2 separate regions of the Homo sapiens genome follow, and region 2 is linked to region 1. Evidence: fine-mapped expression QTL. A gene starts in region 1. The other region holds a variant in brackets. All regions are shown on one strand. Distances are between the middles of the regions.

The links. PIP is the estimated chance that this variant, and not a neighbour inherited with it, causes the effect.
Region 2: its variant is fine-mapped to the expression of SEMA5B in gastroesophageal junction (GTEx, PIP above 0.99).

Annotation. Positions count from the first base shown.
Region 1 is chr3:123,026,452-123,029,351 of GRCh38, forward strand. It overlaps SEMA5B (semaphorin 5B), which reads right to left and starts at 1,312. Exons shown (of 23, transcript NM_001031702.4): 1 at 1,013-1,312. RefSeq lists an enhancer at 1,916-2,423.
Region 2 is chr3:122,964,155-122,967,054 of GRCh38, forward strand. All of the region lies in intron 1 of SEMA5B (semaphorin 5B), which reads right to left. Among named protein-coding and RNA genes, the nearest start is that of SEMA5B, 62 kb to the right of the region's middle. The variant A/G (reference allele first, on the strand shown) is at 1,464.

The DNA of each region.
Region 1 (2,900 bases):
GCGGGGGCGGGGAGGAGGGGGCCAGAACGGCGCTGCAGGTGATCCTCCTCCTTGTTTAAAGTTTGCGGTGGGCAAAGGAGTCGGCTCCGTTGGGCCGGGTTTTCTCGAGCCTCGCCTTCTTCCTCCGCCGGTCCGGCGACCACTTCCCTCTTGGCTCCCGCCCCGCGCGGGTCCCCGATCCCCTCTCCCGTCTGCATCCCTCTCTGTGCCCGAGCGCCCCCCGCTCCCTCCCTCCTCGCTGGATCTCCCGCAGGACGTGAGCGGAAAGTGAATGGGCAGCCCCAACCACAAAGACAAATTACCATGAGAAACATAAATCGGGAAATCGCCGCTCGCGTCCCTGCTTCCAGCTGCCGCACCCCTCTCCACCCTCCCAGCCGGGAGTGCGGGGCCCTGAGCCACTGCCCCTGGAGCCTGGTGGGCAGAGTTCACGCTCCGCAGGCCTGGTCAGGGCAAGAGTGTCCTGGAGGCGGGTCTGGGAAGAATCCGGGCGGCGGCTCCGCAGGCGGCGGCGGTGGAGCAGGGACGTCCCTGAGCGGGAGATTTCACACTCTGGGCGGGCCACGCGTTCCCACGCGCCTCGCCGCCCGCACTCTCCCTCAGTGCTGTTTACTAGCCGGCCCTCTCTGAGCCTCCATCTCCGCACCTCTGTCCCTCCGTCCCTCAGCCTCACTCGTCCGTCTCCTTCTCCAGGCCTGGGTCCCGGGTCCCCATCGCCGCTGCAGCCCAGATGCGCCGACCACAGCCCTGGCAGGGCCCAGTGCAACCCGGACCCAAGCTGGCTGGCGGCGGGAACGCAGCAGCGATGAGGGCTCTCAAGCCGAGGTGGCAGCGGGAGGCGCGGAAGCCAGGGGACCCCCTGTCCTCCCGCCCGCAGCCTCACCTACCTGGCTTCAACTTGCCAGAGCCCGGACCCCTACCTCTCTACCCCGATACCCACCCGAGTTGCTGAAGTTTGCAAGTTGCAGCCCCAACCCGCGCAGGGGAAGCGCCCGGGGCTCCCGGGACTCACCTCCCAGAGGCGGGTGCAGGTGCCCGGTTCCCCGCGGCTCCCGACTCCCGGGCGGCGCGGAGCGGCGGGAGCTAACCAGATGGGCTGGCGGCCGGTCTGGGAATGGGGCGGCCGCGCAGGAACGGCCTCCAGCTCTCAGCGCTCCGGTGCAGTCCCCACCCGGGCCCGCGCCCGCTGCGCTCGGGCTCCCAGCAGCCGCTGGATGCGCTGCCGACCCGCCCGGCTCGGCGGAGCTGGGCTCTGGCACCAACCCCCGCGCTCCAACTAGCTCCCGACCCGGCGCTCGGAGAGAGCAGGGAGGAGGAGACCGCGGGAGCAGAAGGAGGGAGGGGGCGGTGGGGGAGGAGTTGCAAGCAAAGGGAGAGAAGGAGGGGAGCGGGAGCGAAAAAGAGGAGGGGGCTGGAGCAGACCTGCCGCGGCGGGCGCTGCACCCGCCAGCCTCGAGGCGCGCGGAGGAGCGCGAGGGGGCGCCCTGCATCCCGCGGCTGCTCGGCCGACTCCCGCCCCGGGCCTGCCGAGTGTGGTGACCAGCCCGGTGGGCCGAAGCCCCTTCCCCGGCCGGCATTCCGGCGGCAAGACCTAGGACTCCGAGCACTTGCCGCCGTTTGCCACATCCCGCCTTGCCGTTCTCGGTCACCCCATCTCGAATGTGACATCCCCGAGGGCCATCGGCGCGGCCTGCCCACCCCAACACTCAGGGCCTGAGGAAGCTCCCCCAAACCCCACTCCGGACTCCCACATTCCCCAGCCCCGTCAGTTCGGAACGATCTTCCTGCCTGTGGATTTGAAGGGGAAGGGACCTCGTGTAAAACGGGGGAGAGCCGTTATAACCTGCAGCGGCAGAGAGGGAGGCTAGGCTGCTGGGCTGGGCTGGAAAGCCAGAACTGGCCGGATTAGGGTTAACCTTGCAAACTGTACGATACCGAGCGAACCTCTCCAAGCCTCAGTTTCCTCAGCTGTAAACTGGGGTTAGTAATACGCACCCTACAGAATTGTGAAGAACGAGTAGGGGATACGGGGAGTAAAATAACATCAGGAACAGTGGGAGGGCAGCCAAGAGATGAGCGATCCGGGGAGGTGGTGGAGCGTTCTCAGCTGAGGACGGAAGGTTTAGCGCAATCACAAGGAGCGAGGCCGAATTGTTTACAAGTTTAAGTGATCTAGTGTTTCTGATGGCTAGAAGGCGGGAGAGAAAGATTCAAGGGGCAAGCTTCAAATCCTAGCTGCCCGGGCTGCAAGAGGGATGGGAAGGGAGCCCTCTGCTGAACAAAAAATATATTTGAAAATGTAAAAAAAGGTGACCTAAGAACGAGTGAGAAAGACAAAGGATTTGAAAAATTAAAACCAGGAAAGTGTGATTCTAAGAGATAACCAAAGAGAACTATGAAATAAAAATAGATAAGTTGGAGGAAGGAAAATATCAAAAGACTTTCTAGAGTATGCCAAAAATTGGATAATTAGAACAAAGTCTGAGTGAAGCATTTTACATAATAAAATTCTGGGTAAAGGAAAACCCAGATAAAGCAGAAGAATTGAGACACTAAGAGCCCCAGAGAAGCACCTCCTGCCTGCCATCCTCCTACCCCTGGACCATGGCAAGAAGCAGTTTGACAGGATAATGGGAAAGAAAGGGTGGTTCTGAATCCAAGAAGGGAGTTTATGAGACACTGTAAAAAGAGAAACAGTGCAAGATCTCAAAGATAGACTTTCTAGGGCAACAGAAATGCTGAAACTCATAATGTGCAGAATGGAGAGAAACTTGCAAAGGGAAAACACGCTCTGGACACAAAGGCAGAGATGCAGAGAAGAAAAGAAAGGAAACGGGCATGTGTGGGCATACCAGTCTGGTAGCCCAGTCTGGGGTAAAAATCAAGTTGGAAGAGGCAGC
Region 2 (2,900 bases), 62 kb before region 1:
TCATTGGTCCTACAATTTCCCCAAATATCCTGACTCACGTTTCAACATTCTCAGGCTCTCCTCTCTGTCTTCTCCTATAGGCAACCCATTGTCGAGTCCTGGCACCTGTACCTCAGTGGATCCCAACCCCAGATGGGATGGCAGGTGACATGTGACATATGAGCCAAGTATGTGGGGTGGGGGCAGAGGAGGATGGGAGGACACACGTTTCTTCTGGGTAGGACAGCTACCAGCTACGCAGCTCTACTTTCCACCAGCTAACTGTTGCTGTGTGAGGACACAGGCCCAGACCTGCCTATTTTTAAAGAAGATCTGCACATCTAGATTTATGTGAAAATTTTCCCATGTTTAAATGCTTGCAACCACTTGCATTTTTTGAAATCCCTATGTGCACCAAACAAAACATGTCTCTCTGTGACCTCTGGGCTTTGGTCTCTCTCTCCCACTGTTCCTTCTTTCCATTCCTACTGCCAAAATGTCCATGCCTCCCTCCTGGACAAGGGAACCCGCTCTTCCTGGGTTGCCCTAGCCAGCTTTCTCCCTTTACCCTTTGCTGGTCTCAAGGCCCCATTGAACAAATGTTGAGTTCTTTAGCTTCAAACTCAAGGCCCTCCAGAGAAAAAGAGAATAGTGAGGGTGAAGGAGACAGAGAAGAGAAGGCTGCTGCCACTCAGGGTGACAGAGCCATTAATTAACAGAGTTAAACATCTGGTGTTTAATTAACACTCTCCCTCCTCTTTCATTCTCCCTCCCTTTAACTTTCCCAGAGGGGCTCCACAGTGGGTGAAACTGAGCAGAAACCAGGAGAACAGCCTCCTGGCTGAGTCAGGGAGGGAGGGTGAGGAGGCTGGTGTTTGATTCCATGTGCTGGAGGGAAGAGGACAGTAGGGTAGCTTTGTGACTGGCTTACTTCAATTAGCATAATGTTCTCAAGGTTCATCTAAGGACAGACTAGGAAGAAGCAGCTTGACGTTTCAGTGGTAGGGACTGTCCAGAAGTTTCTTGGGCAGGAGCTGGGGGCAGGAGCTCAGTGCCTCGGATTATACAAGGAAGTCCCCAGCTCTCTTTGTGGCTAACATGATTGCCTCCCTGAAATTCATTCCCCCATTGTCTTCGATAATAAACTCCCACATTGCACAGAGTGGCAATGTTCCCAGCCTCAGGTGAGACACTTGCTTCTTCAGCCTCTTTTGAAGTTACAGGTGCCCAGGTCTGACCAAGGAGAAATAAGCAGAAGTCTGCTACAGGCTCTGGGAAGACATTTGTCTTCCTTACAAGAGATAGACTCAGTGGGCACCAATCCCTTTCCTTTCTCCACCTTCCTCCCTTGCATTTGAATGTGATGTCTTGAGCTATAGCAGCCCTGTTTTAACCATAAGACAAGAGACAAGCCAAGAGGGCAACAGAATACCTTGATGCTGTTGAGCCAGTGAGCAAAGACCAGCAGCTGCTGCCACTTCCGA[A/G]ACCTCTTGTGAAGTGATTAAATGAATCTCTCTGTTTAAAGTTATTGTAGATGGTGTTTTCTGTTACATGCATCCAAAAGCATTCCTAAGTGATACACTCCCTACCCTAAAACCTCTTCTCTCTAGGGAGATAAGTAAGTAACCACTTATTTAATTAGAGTGGGGTAAAGTGAAGAGCAGACATGCTGCTCAGAGCGCCTCCCAATCTGGATGGCCCAGGACCCAGGATTAAGAACTGGAAAGCAGATAGTAGAGTGGGCCATGGCTACATGAGATGGGAGCTCTGAGGGAGTCCTCTCAGAGTCTGCCAGACAGTGGGAGCTCAGCCGACACAGGTTTGTGTGGATACATGAATGGCTGGATGTGCCACTTCTTGGCACAGGTGGCCCAGCGACAACCAGCTGGAAGGAAGGGACCCTCCAGCAGCTAACTTGAATCTCTCTGATTCCAGACCCTTCTCAGAAGGCCATGCTGGAACACCTCTCCCCTTTAGAAGTTCCCTCCTCCTCCCCACTTCCCATGATGCCCCCCACACTCTTATTTGGCACTTAATCAAACCTCCCCATTTGCTCCAAATATGGCTCTTGGTTTGACTGCAAACCCTGGGAGGCAGATACCACTTCCTTTTTCAGCCTCCAGGACCTACCAGTGTCTTGAACACTGAAGACAGTTGATAAATGTTTTCATTTGAAGTTGATGCTTTGGAGGGTGCAAAGAGGTTTGTGACTTAAAGAGTTGCTCAGAGAAGAGCCCCTCCTAAAAAGAATAGTCCCAGAAGTCTGTAGTACTGCCTGAAATTGTACTATCAGACATGGACTACATTGACTAGCTGGGTCACCTTAAGTGAAACAACCACTCTCAGCAACAGTTTTGTGTGATGGGAGTGCCAACTCAGCATGGAAATTCATTGTAAGAATGTTTATTATTATTATTATTATTATTATTATTATTTTTTGAGACGGAGTCTCGCTCTATCACCCAGGCTGGAGTGCAGTGGCGTGATCTCAGCTCACTGCAAGCTCCGCCTCCTGGGTTCACGCCATTCTCCTGCCTCAGCCTCCCAAGTAGCTGGGACTACAGGCCCCCGCCACCGCGCCCAGCTAATTTTTTGTTTGCATTTTTAGTAGAGACGGGGTTTCACCATGTTAGCCAGGATGGTTTCGATCTCCTGACCTCGTGATCTGCCCGCCTCGGCCTCCCAAAGTGCTGGAATTACAGGCGTGAGCCACCACACCCGGCCTATTACTATTATTATTATTATTATTATTATTATTATTATTATTAGAGATGGAGTTTCACTCTTGTGGCCCAGGCTGGAATGCAATGGTGCTATCTTGGCTCAACACAACCTCTGCCTCCTGGGTTCAAGCGATTCTCCTGCCTCAGCCTCCTGAGTAGCTGGGATTGCAGGCGCCCGCCACCACATCCGGTTAATTT